Linked DNA regions of Homo sapiens. The protein of the gene in region 1 purifies or fractionates together with the protein of each later gene. This does not show direct contact. Each region holds a gene or a part of one and is shown in the gene's direction. Other genes may lie near its edges.

The links. Proteins that work in one complex are often made in the same cells at the same time.
Region 2: the proteins of ADPRH (region 1) and XRN1 purify together in Homo sapiens (affinity purification with mass spectrometry; 2 studies listed by BioGRID and IntAct, with this or other methods). This does not show direct contact.

The regions. Positions count from the first base shown.
Region 1 is NC_000003.12:119,582,196-119,589,777, forward strand, and holds part of ADPRH (ADP-ribosylarginine hydrolase), read left to right. Parts: coding exon 1-272; intron 273-4,089; coding exon 4,090-4,450; intron 4,451-5,268; coding exon 5,269-5,683; 3' UTR 5,684-7,582.
Region 2 is NC_000003.12:142,325,758-142,333,339, reverse strand, and holds part of XRN1 (5'-3' exoribonuclease 1), read left to right. Parts: intron 1-250; coding exon 251-373; intron 374-805; coding exon 806-965; intron 966-3,702; coding exon of another isoform or gene 3,703-3,724; coding exon 3,725-3,906; intron 3,907-7,582. UniProt on the Homo sapiens protein: Major 5'-3' exoribonuclease involved in mRNA decay. Required for the 5'-3'-processing of the G4 tetraplex-containing DNA and RNA substrates. The kinetic of hydrolysis is faster for G4 RNA tetraplex than for G4 DNA tetraplex and monomeric RNA tetraplex.

The DNA.
Region 1 (7,582 bases):
GCTGAGTGCAGCTGGAGATGCCCTGGGGTACTACAATGGGAAGTGGGAGTTCCTCCAGGATGGGGAGAAGATACACCGGCAGTTGGCCCAGCTGGGCGGCTTGGATGCCCTAGACGTGGGAAGGTGGAGAGTTAGTGACGACACAGTGATGCACTTGGCCACAGCAGAAGCTCTTGTGGAAGCTGGGAAAGCCCCTAAGTTGACTCAACTGTATTACCTCCTTGCTAAGCATTACCAAGACTGCATGGAAGACATGGATGGGCGGGCACCAGGTGAGCACAGCCGGTGGGAGGTGCAAGGAGGGCAAAGAATAAAACAGCCTTGAGGAAATCATTAAGAATGTTGATGGAGATTTAAATAACAGAGACAATAGTGTTTGTAAATGTGATAAAAATAGAAATAACGGCCATGGTGGTGGCTCATACCTGTAATTCCAGCTCTTTGGGAGGCCAAGGTGAGAGAATCACTTGAACCCAGGAGTTCAAGACAAGCCTGAGCAATATACGGAGACCCTGTCTCTAGAATGGGGTAGCCAATCCCTCTTCTAGAGACAGGTACTGATCCGTGGCTTGTTAGGAACTGGAGCACACAGCAGGAAGTGAGTGATGGGCGAAGGAGCATCATCACCTGAGCTCTGCCTCCATCAGATCAGTGGCGCATTAGATTCTCATAGGAGCCTGAACCCTGTTGGGAACTGCACATGCGAGGGATCTAGATTGTGGGCTTCTTATGAGAATCTAATGTCTGATGATCTGTGGTGGAACAGTTTTGTCCCAAAACCTCCCCCAACCAACCCCGTCCATGGAAAAATTATCTTCTGTAAAACCGGTCGCTGGTGCCAAAAAGGCTGGGGACTACAACTCCAGAAAAAAATTTTTAAAACATTAGCCAGGTGTCATGGCACATACCTGTAGTCCCAGCTACTTGGGGGGCTGAGGTAGGATGATTGCTTGAGCCCGGGAGGTTGAGGCTACAGTGAGCTAGGATCGTGCCACTGCATTCCAGCCTGAGTGACAAAGCAATACCCTGACTCTAAAAAATAAAGAAATAAATAGAAAGAACCTAAATCTCTCATAATTAATTAAGCTGACACATTTGCAACCATTTAAAATTATTCAGGGTGACTCTACTCAATAACAATGTATCGTATATTTCAAAATAACCAATAGAGTAAATTTCAAATGTCTCACCACAAAAAAAAGTGAGGCAATAGATATGCTAATTAGCCTGATCATCCCACATTGTTTACATATATCAAATCATCACATTATACTAAATAAATGTATATAATTGATTTGTCAATTTAAATATTAATAAAAATTTAAAATTTGCAAATAATATTTACTAATATTGAAAAGTATTATTATACACTAATAGGTTATAAAATAGTATGTATGTTATGAACCTACTGTCCTTTAAAAAATAGATCTGTGGGGCCAAGTGCTGTGGCTTACACCTGTAATCCCAACACTGTGAAAGGCCAAGGTGAGAGGATTGCTTGAGTCCAGGAGTTTGAGACCAGCCTGGGCAACATAGCAAAAGCCTGTCTTTAAAAAAAATTTTTTTGAGTGGCCAGTTAAAAAAAAATTTTTTTTTTTTTGAGATGGAGTCTCACTCTGTTGCCCAGGCTGGAGTGCAGTGGCACGATCTCGGCTCACTGCAACCTCTGCCTCCCAGGTTCAAGCGATTCTCCTGCCCCAGCCTCCCAAGTAGCTGGGATTACAGGCACGCACCACCACGTCTGGCTAATTTTTGTATTTTTGGTAGAGATGGGGTTTCACCATGTTGGCCAGGCTGGTTTCGAACTCCTGACCTCAGTTGATCCACCTGCCTCAGCCTCCCAAAGTGCTGGGATTACAGGCATGAGCCACCATGCCTGGCCAAAAAAAAACTTTTTTTTAAAAAATAGATATGTATTTCTGTGTTGAGAAAGATCTTGAAGAACATGTACAAAGATGTTACTAATTATATTTGGGTGATGGGAGTATTTATAGTTTTTTATTTTTACTTACTTGTATTTCTAAGTTTTCTGTGATGAATAAGTAAAAAGAAAAATGTATATTTTTTATTTTTAAAGAAAAATGCGGCTAGGCATGGTGGCTCATGCCTGTAATCCAAGCACTTTGGGAGGCCAAGGCGGGCAGATCATCTGAGGTCAGGAGTTTGAGACTAGCCTGACCAACATGGTGAAATCCCATCTCTACTAAAAATTAAAAAATTAGCTGGGTGTGATGGTGCACACCTGTAATCCCAGCTACCCAGGAGGCTGAGGCACGAGAATCACTTGAACCCCAGAGGCGGAGGTTGCAGTGAGCCAAGATCGCGCCATTGGACTCCAGCCTGGGCGACAGAGTGAGACCCCATCTCAAGAAAAAAAAATGCAAAGGCTTTTGTAGAGACTTCTGGCCACAGGTTCGCTCACAAGTGGTTCTTGCCCACTTCGGCAACTTGTTAGAGCCACTTGGGCCACCAGGTGATTTTCTCTGGCCCATCTGACCTACCTCTCCTATTTGAGGCTGCTAGGGCTGCCATAACAAAATGGCATAGACTGAGTGGCTGAAACAATGGAAATTTGTCTCTCACAGCTCTGGAAACTGGAAATCCAAGTCAAGATATTGACAGGCCTGGTTTCTTCTGAGGCCTCTCTCCTTGGCTTGCAGATGGCTGCCTCCTCGCTGTGTCCTCACATGGTCTTTCCTCTGTGTGCATGTATCCCTGGTGTTTCTGTGTGTTTGCATTCCTCTTCATGTAAGGACACCAGGCAGATTAGATTAGGGCCTACCCTAAAGGCCACATTTTAGCTTAACCACCTCTTTAAAGGCCCTATCTCCAAATCGAGGTACTTAGAGCTACAGCATTTGAATTGGGGGGACTCAATTCAGCACATAACACCTCCTGATGAAAGCTTCCCATCACCATACCAAGGGGCCCTTGTCACCCCAAGGATTGGCTTTAGATGCCAATCTCTGTTCATCCTTTCTCGGCATCTGATAGCTCATCAGTTTAGCAAGTGGAAACTTTTTTTTGTCCACCTGTGCCATCCATGAACATTTTTGTGAAAACACTGACCAGTAAAGGAACAGCAGTGCCACACTCCATCGTATGTTGCTGCCATCGCTTGGTTCGCATGCGTATTCACAGGTCCCCAGTAGGACAGGTCGGGGGACAAGCCTGCTTACGTCACTGTCACGAGGGGATAGCCAAGGCCCAGAGGTTCAGTGACTCACCAAAGACACATTGTTTCCCTGAATCCACTGCTCCTCATCTGAGCCCAGGGCTTCACTGTAGAATTTTTGGCCGCTTTCTTTCTTTTTGATGTTCAGGAACTCCAATTGTGAGGTTTTTGTTTTTTGTTTTTTGGTTTTTTGTTTTGAGACGGAGTCTCGCTCTGTCACCCAGGCCAGGGTGCAGTGGTGCAATCTCGACTCACTGCAACCTCTGCCTCCCGGGTTCAAACGATTCTCCTGCCTCAGCCTTCCAAATAGCTGGGACTACAGGCATGTGTCACCACGCCCGGCTAGTTTTTTGTATTTTTAGTAGAGACGGAGTTTCACCGTGTTAGCCAGGATGGTCCCGATCTCCTGACCTCGTGATCTGCCTGCCTCCACCTCCCAAAGTGCTGGGATTACAGGCATGAGCCACTGCTCCCGGCCTAATTGTAAGGTTCTTATTGGACTCCATAAGGAATTGGGCTTTGGAGTCTGATGGATTTTACCCAGCCACTAACTAGCTGATTATGTGATTTTGAGGAAGTTTCTTAAGCTCTGAGCTTAAAAGGCTTATTTACTTAAAAAAGAGAACAATATACTTACTTCTTAATTTTTTTGTGATGTCTCAGTAATGACTGGTAAAGATTCCAAGGATCCCTATATGAGTCTGCTGCCTTTATTAGCGTTATCTTGCCAAGGGTTATACATAAAGAAAGGCACATTGTTGGGTGGGGTTTGGAGTTTTGGGGCATGCATCATCATATTTTTTGGCTCTCCCTTTCCATCAAAAATACTTGGAGACAGAGTTTAGTTATTTATTCCTGCTGGGGCCTTTGCTTTGGTTATGCTAACCCCCATCCCTTATCCGACTCTTCCCCAGGTGGTGCCTCGGTGCACAACGCCATGCAGCTGAAGCCGGGCAAGCCCAATGGCTGGAGGATTCCCTTCAACAGCCATGAGGGCGGCTGTGGGGCTGCCATGCGGGCCATGTGCATCGGTCTCAGGTTCCCACACCATAGCCAACTGGACACACTGATCCAAGTGAGCATCGAGAGTGGTCGGATGACCCACCACCACCCAACAGGCTACCTGGGGGCCCTTGCGTCTGCTCTTTTTACAGCCTATGCTGTGAATAGCAGACCACCCTTGCAGTGGGGAAAAGGACTGATGGAGCTGCTACCAGAAGCTAAAAAGTACATTGTCCAATCAGGCTACTTTGTAGAGGAAAATCTTCAACACTGGTGAGTCTGTAAGCGCACGCCCTGCTCAAACACGGTTGAATCTGTGCGTGTACATCCACCTGCACATATATGTCTTGTATTCAGAGATCACAGCAACCCTCATGGTTTTCACCCCCAGCCCCCTTTCTACCCATCTGCTAAGGATTTCAAGTTCCCTTCCAGTAATGATTCTACAAAGTAGCCAAGTGGATACCTCAATGAATAGGGCAGCTGTGGTGTTTCCCTCTTACACGGAATCCTGTCATTTTTGTGGCTATCCTATTCTGCCATGAATTTTCATGCCTATTTCCTACTTTCCTGGAATTTGCTTTTTCAGTGTTGTCTTGGTATACAAATAATATTTTGAAATCCTTGGTTAAAATTCCAGAGATACGTTTTTCCACTAGCTAACTAATAAGTGGTAAGGCCACATCTTCCCCTTCTCGTGAGTTCACTTCACATTGTCTTTCTTAGAATAAAAAGAGGCTTTCTGCTGAAGTCACCCACAGTTGTGATGTCTTGAAGTTCCCCTTTAAAAGGTCATTACTCTCGACCCTCCCAGGGAAAACAAACCTGTATTTCTTACCCTTTAACTTGATATGTATCTCTTTATTTAGCAACAGGATCAATGCCTTATTTATGTAGATCCTTATGAAAAATGTATTGAATGAATGGTACTTATATAGAAATAATTTTGATGTTTAAATAGTTTATGATATTACTGCAAGAAGCCGAAGTTATGTTGGATTTTTCTCTGTTCACACATCCATCTGGTGCTTTTTGTTATGACTTTTCACTTTATTTTTTTCAATTGACTCTAGATTTTTTCCTTTCTACAGGTCCTACTTCCAAACCAAATGGGAAAATTACCTAAAACTTAGAGGGATTTTGGATGGAGAATCAGCCCCTACCTTCCCTGAGTCTTTCGGTGTGAAGGAGAGGGATCAGTTCTACACCTCCCTGAGCTACTCTGGCTGGGGTGGCAGCAGTGGGCACGATGCCCCCATGATTGCCTACGATGCTGTTCTTGCTGCAGGAGACTCCTGGAAGGAGCTTGCCCACCGAGCCTTTTTCCATGGTGGAGACAGTGATTCTACAGCTGCCATTGCTGGCTGCTGGTGGGGAGTTATGTATGGTTTTAAAGGAGTGAGTCCCTCCAACTATGAGAAACTAGAATACAGAAACCGGCTGGAAGAGACAGCTAGGGCTTTATATTCTCTCGGGTCAAAAGAAGACACTGTAATTTCCCTTTAGGGAGACGTGATGTTCACTTCTGATGGATTCTTCTTTTGTGTATTTCCTTTTCTGCTATTTCTTTTCAGTTTTTCCAAAGTCAAGAGTCTTAACCTTGTACTCAGGGAATTTTGAGATAACAAGTCCCTTGGGCACCTTAAGCTCAGTTTTTTCAGGCTCATCCTGTTCTTCCAGAATCTATCCCTTTTCTTACACTGAAGAGTCCTTTAGCTCAATTGATAGGGTCAGCGTCTCGCAAGCAAAAAATCTCATGACCTCATATTTGAGTCTTCATTTTCATCATCTACTTGTTCTAAAAGTTTTTTCTGTTTGTCTCAAGTTGGGTTCCCACAAAGTGGACTTTGAGACAAAGATCTGAATGCAAGCAGTTTATATGGGAGATGATTCCAGGAAATACCGATATGAGAATGGGGAAATGAAACCAGGAAGGGAAGAGAGCTAGTATGGGGTATGTTAATGAGCAGGTTTCCACTGTGGGCGGTTGGCACTCTGCCATCTGAGTCCTCTGCCTAAAGCATTCCTCAGAACTGTCCCATTTGAAGGGCAAGCAAACCTGGGGTATTTATCCACTGACTTCCATCTGACACTGGTTGAGGACCACTGCCAGGGATGCTAACTCCCTGGTAATTCTTGGCTTACCCTTTGTACAAACCAAACCTTAGTGTCTTCAGGTAAAGACTCAGAGATACTTGCAGGGGCAAGCTGTAAAGGGCATGGGAACAGTGAGGGACATATGTGGGGTCCTAACAATATCTGCTAGGCTGGTCTACCTCCTAAATATACTCTGAATCTATCACCTCTATTGCCTTCTTGCACTGAGGATTTTTCAGCTGGATTTCTGCAATCCAAGCTACTCAAGTCTGGGAGATGCTGCTCTGAGCTGCTCTCAGTACTCTCCTCATCATGGCAGTTAACACATTACCAATTTTGTTATTGTCTGTTTGCTTGTTTGCATTATTTCTAAACAGAACCTAGCACAGTGCTTGGGCAGCCAATAGGCATTAATCAGTATCTATTGAGTGTTATGAACTAGCCTCCTAGCTCGTGCTTCCCTCATTACCCTCCAGAGTTATGTTTACGAATAACAAATTGACCATGCTAAACTAATCATGTTCCAATGAATACATCACCTTTCTTCATTTCTTGATGCTCTTCCCAATCCTTGTCTACCTGATAATAAATTCTTACTTGTCCTTCAAGACCCAACTCAGATAGATAGAGCTTCCTGAGTGAAACCTGCTTTGATTGTTCAGGCACTTGGCCACCTTCTCCTCACTCCTCCCACAGCCTTCTGTCTTGGCCTTGTCATCACATCAATCCTGTTGTGTGGTGCTGTGTGTCTTCTGGGTCAGTCCTAGGCACATGCTGCCCAGCACATGTCCACCTGGGAAATGAGATGCCATCGTCACATTCATTTGGTCACCCTCAGTCCAGCCAGTGGGCTTGCTCTCATTTGGCCTGTTCTCAGGGGTGGGAAGGAAGAGCGTCCCTTCCTTCTCCTTTTGAGAAAACCACAGAACTATGACTCTCATGATTTTTCCTTTGTGAAATCCCTGGTTTTCAGCTGGAAGCGGTGGGTAAATGAGGTCTGATGATAGCAGTCCTGCCACCTTCTAGTTCATCCCATAGGAATGTTTTTCCAAGTCCTTCCAGTCTTTTTAGAACGTGGTGGAGGAGGGTTGTGTGTGCCCCAGGGGGTCGGGGGTAGGGGATGCAGGGAGGATCTTAGCATTTGTTGTTTTCTAGTGCAGGGCTTTAGCCACAATTGTAAACAACAGGAAAAGGCTCTTTAGAGATCCTATTAGATTTGCTTTGCCGATTGTCACTCTTCATCACAGGCACATTTCAAAAAGAGGTTAGACTTTCAGACTTCTTTTTTCTCAAACCTCAAAACTTCCA
Region 2 (7,582 bases), about 23 Mb from region 1:
AAATATAATATTAAGCTATTGAAGAGAAATGAAAGTCCAGAAGTCTCAGAAACCCAAAAGGTTGTGACTGGTTATCCAAATGCTATTGATAAGGTAAAAAACTATTTATTCCAATTCTCTTCCCAAACTTTAACACCTGGGAAGATGATTGAGTGAAAATCGAATGACCATTTTTGTACATAAAACTCAGCTTTTTGTGTGTTCTTGTATTATACGTTCATCTTCATGCCCAAAATATTTATTCTTTTAGCCTAACTCTGGAATTGAGAACTTTTTAGCATCTTTGAATATCTCCAAAGAAAATGAAGTACAGTCATCTCATCATGGGGAGCCTCCAAGTGAAGAGCATTTGTCACCACAGTCATTTGCCATGGTTCGTATTTTGTAGGAACTTTCTTACTGTGGTAATTTCTCGACTGTTGACCATGCAGACATATCCCATGCAAGTGTTCAAACACTTCCATCATGGAGGCTGGTATGTTACATCATTATTGTCATCTTGTGAGGAAACCAGGCTGCCCTGGGCAATTTAGCCATACTTTTTCTCTTTAGACCACAGTTCCCCTGCTTTTCAAACATTGCTACTAGGTAACTGGGATGAAAGTTAAGCAGGAGGATAAGTATCGTTTCTGTATCAGAAATGTGGGTGTTGGGTTTTTTTTTTTCAGTTTCTATCTGAATGTAGTTAATGTCTTAATTGTTAACAATGGAATTCTTTCCAAGAAAGATCAATAAGTTCTACAGATGTAATGTTGACTTTGTTCTCTTCACCCTCACCATCTCCATGTGAATCATTTTCAAAAAGAAGGGAACACGGATGCTTAAAGAAATTCTAAAAATTGATGGCTCTAACACTGTGGACCATAAGAATGAAATCAAACAGATTGCTAATGAAATCCCTGTTTCCTCTAACAGAAGAGATGAATATGGATTACCCTCTCAGCCTAAACAAAATAAGAAATTAGGTAAGTAAACTAAATACTATTACCAATAATATCATTTTAAAAATTCAATTCATTTGGTTCTTTTTAATCATGTACTTTTAAAGATAAAACTGCTTTTATTTTAATGTATTTATTTATTTTAGAGATGGTGTCTTGCTGTGTTGGCCAGGCTGGTCTCAAACTTCTGACCTCAAGCAATCCTCTCACTTCAGCCTCCCAAAGTGCTGGGATTACAGGTATATGCCACCACACCTGGCCCAAAACTACTTTTATTCTTAAAACTATAATTTTTATATTTGTTTCAGTTATATAATAATATAACTGGCCAGGTGTGGCTCATGCCTGTAATCTCAGAACTTTGGGAAGCTGAGGCAGGCGGATCTCTTAAGCTCAGGAGTTCAAGACCAGCCTGGGCAACATGGCGGAAACTCTGTCTCTCTAAAAAATACAAAAGTTAGCTAGGTGTGGTGGCGTGTGCCTGTAGTCCCAGCTACTGGGGAGGCTGACGTGGTAGGATTGCTTGAGCCTTGGAGGCAGAGGTTGCAGTGAGCCAAGATCACGCCACTGCACTCTAACCTGGGCAACAGAGATAGACCCTGTCTCAAAAAACAAAAAGAACAATAATAATACAACCATGTAACCAATAGATCTACAGTCACTAAATGTCTTCTTGTGATTACTTAATTGTAGTGTTATAGATAATCATTCTGTAGACATCCAAACCTTTAAAAGTTTGCACATTCTAGCTTTTGTCCTCAGTAATTTAAAAATTATCATGTAACTTAAATACATTATTTAACTTTTCTGAAATCTTGTTTCTTATTTATAAAATAAGAATAATACATTACAGATTACTTGTGGTAATTATATAACATGTATAAATATAAAACAGCACTATGTCCAACACATTGTAGGTGCTAATAATTGATATTAATATTATGTTAAAATAACCTAACTGTTGTAAAAATAGAAAAATCTACAAAATCAATTAAAAATCATTAATAGAGTTAGATATAGGAAAGTGAGTCATACTCTTAAGTCTGTAAAGCCTATAGCATAACATCTGGCACATAACTGGATTTCAGTAAATATCCGCCATATTTGTTCCTACCCTGAATGTCCTCTATACTTTAGCATTTTATCTGTATAATGATCTACTAAAGGCAGCCAGGAAGAATGACTGATACAAAAGTGGATGTGGGCAGAAGTTTCTCAGAGAAGTCAAAAACATTTTGGAATAAGCAGATCTAAGCGTATTAAAGATCAAAACCTGGAATTGGCTGGGCACGTTGGCCCACATCTGTAATGCCAGCACTTTGGGAGGCCAAGGCGGGTGGATCACCTGAGGTCAGGAGTTTGAGACCAGCCTGGCCAACATGGTGAAACCCCCTTTCTACTAAAAATACAAAAAATTAGCCGGGTGTGGTGGCAGGCGCCACCAAGTAGCTGTAATCCCAGCTACTTCAGAGGCTGAATCAGGAGAATCGCTTGAACCCGGGAGGTGGAGGTTGCAGTGAGCCAAGATCACGCCATCACACTCGAGCCTGGGCAACAAGAGCGAAACTCTGTCAAAACAAAAACAAAACCTGGAATAAAAGCAGAACCTAACCCCATTTATATTCCAGTGATAATTAATTAAAAATTCCAAAAAATATTAGGAACCTGATTATTTATTATAGTGACAGACATGGTCCTGAAATAGAACCAAATTAATTTTAAGACAAAATTAGATAAAGATGGTCCCATTGTCAAAAACAAGTAAGTTTTACTTTATTTCAGTATAGGAAAAAAAAAAAAAAAAACTCATAGGCTTTAGAGTCTTAGGGTCACTAGCTCAGAATCCAGCCCCTGTTATAGAACTAACTGGCTCTGTGACTTTGAGCAAGCCACTTAACTGCTTTTTTAATCTATATTAGTAAGAAGTTTGGATTAATTCTTCAATGAGGTATGCTTTTGTTCTATTAGTGAGTTTGTTAATCATAAAGAATGTGAACACTCAGAATTTTAAAATCATCTTCCATATAAAAACACTTAGAAGACAATTTCAAAAAAAACTTTTAAGAAATATTATTTCAGAGCCACAAAAATATTCATCCATGTGTCTCAGAATGTAAGGTGGAATTGCAAGAATTGAGGTGGAAGCCAAAACTTCAAAACTTAAGGATGAATTATATTTCAGCTCAAGAAAGCCATTTGTTTATTCATTCTTTTATTTTTCTCTTCTTACTTCTGCAAAACAAGAAAGCCATTTGTTTGTTCAAATTTTACCTGTAGCAGTACCATGTAGTCATTAGCTGCTCAAGGTTTTAATTTTTGGCAGTTAGGTACTTATATTTTAAAATCTTTATCTTAATAATTTATCATTAATCAATTATACTCATCCAAAAACCTTTACTGAAGTCACAATAATTTTAGGAAGTACTAAATAGTTGTTTATATGTGCTTCATGGAAGACTCATCTTTTTAATGCAGTTGGTGGCTCTATAGCGTCTAACTGAATTTTTCAAGGTTTTCGACCAAATTTATAAGGTGCGTGGCCAGAGGACCACTGAAGGTAAGCTGACAGTCACTTGGATGGCAGGTTGTACTGCTAGAGTCCAGGATTTGGAACTAGAGCCACCTGAAATCCTGATTCTGTTATTTAATAATGGGTGGCCTTGAGCAATTCACTTCACTTTTTAGCAGTTTCCTGCTTGCTCTTCTATAAAACCCTACAATAAGTGCATAATTTGAGATAGTATTTTATTAATAAAGATAGACTCTTTTCTCTTTTTTGGTAGCATCTTATATGAACAAGCCTCACAGTGCTAATGAGTACCATAATGTTCAGTCTATGGACAATATGTGTTGGCCTGCCCCCAGCCAGATCCCTCCTGTATCCACACCAGTAACTGAACTTTCTCGAATTTGTTCCCTTGTTGGAATGCCACAACCTGATTTCTCCTTTCTTAGGATGCCACAGGTATAGTATACTACTGTTCTATTTATATAAATTATTTAACATTAAGCTTAAATAAATTGGTTGAAAATGTTTAGCTAGAAAAAATAAAATGGGGCCTATTTTTCTTAACTTTATGAGCAGCATAGATTTATGCTTCTTACCCTAGCTCTAATATTTATACATAACCAAAGCCCTAAGAGAAGCTGACAGGGAGGAACTGGGCAGCAGGTATCCTGGCAAGATTCCTCAAACTAATAGAGCCAGGGATCTTGGCCTACAGTAGCAATTTTCAAACTTTTTGGTCTCAGAAACTTCACACTTTTTTTGGAGGACCCCAAAGAGATTTTGTTTACTTATATCCATATTTACTGTGTTTGAAATTAAAACAAAAAAAATTGGCCAGTTGTAATGGGTCATGCCTGTAACTCAGCACTTTGGGAGGCCAAGGCGGGAGGACAGCTTGAGGCTGGGAGTTTAAGACCAGCCTGGGCAACATAGCAAGACCTCATCTCTACAAAAGAATATAAAAATAAAATTAGCCATGTGTGTTGTGAGCCTGTAGTCCCAGCTGCTCACAAGGCTGAGGCAGGAGGACGGAAGCCCAGGAGGTCAGGACTTCAGTGAGCCACGATTATGCCATTGCACTCCAGCCTGGGCAACAGAGCAAGACCTTGTCTCTGAAACATATATATATATATATATATATATATATATATATATATATATATATATATATATATATATATATATAATATTACAAGTAAACCTATATGTTTATTAATCCATTGTTTATTAAAAATAACTTTCACCTAATAGACATCTGTAGAACATTTCATCCAACAGCTGTAGAATATACATTCTTTTCCTCAACAAATGGAACATTCTCAAGGATAAACCAAATGTTAAGCCACAAAACAAGTCTCACAAAATTCAAAAGATTAAAATTCAATCAAGTATATTTTCTGACCATAATGAAATAAAACCAGAAATCAATAACAAGAGGAACTTTGGAAACTATACAAATAAATGGAAATTAAACATTATGTTTCTGAATGGCCCTTGGGTCAATGAAGAAATTAAGAGAAAATTTTAAATTTTCCTGAAGCAAATGAAAATGGAAACACAACATACCAAAACCTGTAGGATACGGCAAAAGTAGTACTAGGAGGGAAGATTATAGCAATAAATCCCTGCATCCAAAAAGTACAGACACTTCAAATAAACAACCTAACAGTGTGTCTTGAAGAATTAGTTCCAGCAGTCACACTACTGGGTATCTATCTAAAGGAAAAGAAATTGTATAAAAAAGATACCTGATTTGTATGTATATTGCAGCACTAGTCACAATAGCCAAGATGTAGAATCAACCTAAGGGTCCATCAACAGATGATTGGATAAAGAAAATGTGGTGTATATATACACAATGGAATATTGTTCAGACATTTTAAAAAAGAATGAAACCATGTCTTTTGCAGCAACATGGATGGAACTGAGGCCATTATCTTAAGCAAACAACTCAGAACAGATACCACATGTTCTCATTTATAAGTGGGAGCTAAATAATGTGTACATAGGGATATAGAGTGTGAAATAATAGAGACTTGGAAGGGTGGGGGATGGGCAGGGAGTAGATGGTGAGAAATTACTTAATGGCTGCAATGTATGCAGTGTACATAATTCAGGTGATGAATATAAGAAAAGCCCAGACTTTACCACTCTGCAATAAATCCATGTAACAAAACTGCACTCGCACCCCTTACGTTTATACAAATTTTTAAAATAAATAATAACTAGAAAAGCAAGAGGAAACCAAACCCAAAATTATTAGAAGAAAAGAAATGATAAAGATTGGGGCAGAAATTAATGAATTGATACTAAAAATAGTACAAAAGATGGATGAAAGAAAAAGTTGTTTTTTTTTTTTAAAAGATAAGCAAAATCAACAAACCTTTAGCCGGACTGTAAAAGAGAGAATATCCATATGAATAAAATCAGAGATGAAAAAGGAGTCATTACATCTGATAACACAGAAATTCAAAATATTTTAGAGACTATTATGAGCAACTATATGCAGTAAATTGGAAAACTTAGAAGAAATGGATGAATTCCGAGACACATAAAAACATACCAAGATTGAACCATGAAGAAATCCAAAACTTGAATAGAACAACATTAACAAGATGGAAGCGGTAGTAAAAAGCCTCTTATCAAAGTAGACCAGGACCTGGTGTTTTCGCTACTGAATTCTGCCAAACGCTGAAAGAAGAGCTAATAAGAGTTCTACTCAGACTGTTCCAAAAACTTGAGGAGGAGAAAATACTTCCAAACTTGCCAGTATTACCCTGATACCAAAACCAAAGAAAGACACTACAAAAAATGAGAACTACAGGCCGATATATCTGATGAAGTAGATATAAAAATCTTCAACACAATACTAGTGAATTGAATTCAAAGGCACATTAAAAAGATAATTCATCATGATCAAGTGGGATTCATCCCAGGTATGCAAGGATGTTTAAATATATGCAGTCAATAACTGTGACACATCAACAAAATGAAGAACAAAAACCATATGATCATTTCAATACTAACTGAAAAAGTGTTTGATAAAATTCAGCATCTCTTTGTGATAACAGCTCTCAACAAACTGGGTATAGAAGGAACATACCTCAACATAATAAACAACAACAAACCCACAGCTAGTATCATACTGAATGGGGGAAAAATGAAATACTTTCCTTTAAATTCTGGAAACAAGACAAGGATGCCCACTTTCACCACTGTTAATATAGTACTGGAAATCCTTGCCAGAGCAATTAGACAACAGAAATAAATAAAAGGCATCCAAAAGGGAAAGGAAGGAGTCAAACTACTCTTGTTAGTAGACAATATAATCTTATATTTAGAAAAAAACTATTAGAATTGATAAATTCAGTGAAGTTGTAGGATACAAAATCAACATACAATCAGTCACATTTCTATATACTGACAGCAAACAATCTGAAAAAGAAACCAAGAAATTAATCCCCTGCAGAATAGCTACAAATAAATAAAATACCTAGAAATTAATCAAGTTAACCAAAGCAGTGAAAGATCTCTACAATGAAAACTTATTATAAAACAATGATGCAAGAAATTGAAGAAGACACAAAGAAATGGAAAGATTGTCCATGTTCATGTATTGGAAGAATCAATATTGTTAAAATGTCTATACCACCCCCAAGCAATCTGCAGATACAGTGCAACTCCTCTCAAAATACCGATGACATTCTTGACAGAAATAGAAAAAAAAAAAAAATCCTAAAATTTATCTTGAACCGCACACGATCCTGAATAGCTACGGCAATCCAGAGCAAAGTGAACAAAGCTGGAGGCATTATACTGCAAAGTTACATAACCAAAACAACATGGTACTGGCTTAAAAACAGACAGAGACCAATGGAACAGAATAGAGAATCCAGAAATAAATCCACACAGTTACAGTCAACTTATTTTTTATAAAGATGACAAGAACATATGTTAGGGAAAGAACAGCCCCTTCAGTAAATGATCCTGGGACAACTAGATATCCATATTTAAGGGAATGAAACTAAGTGCTTATCTCTCACCATTTTCAAAAATCAAATCAAAATGGATTAAAGACTTAAATGTTAGATCTGTAGCTATTAAACTGCTGGAAGTAAACACTGGGGAAACA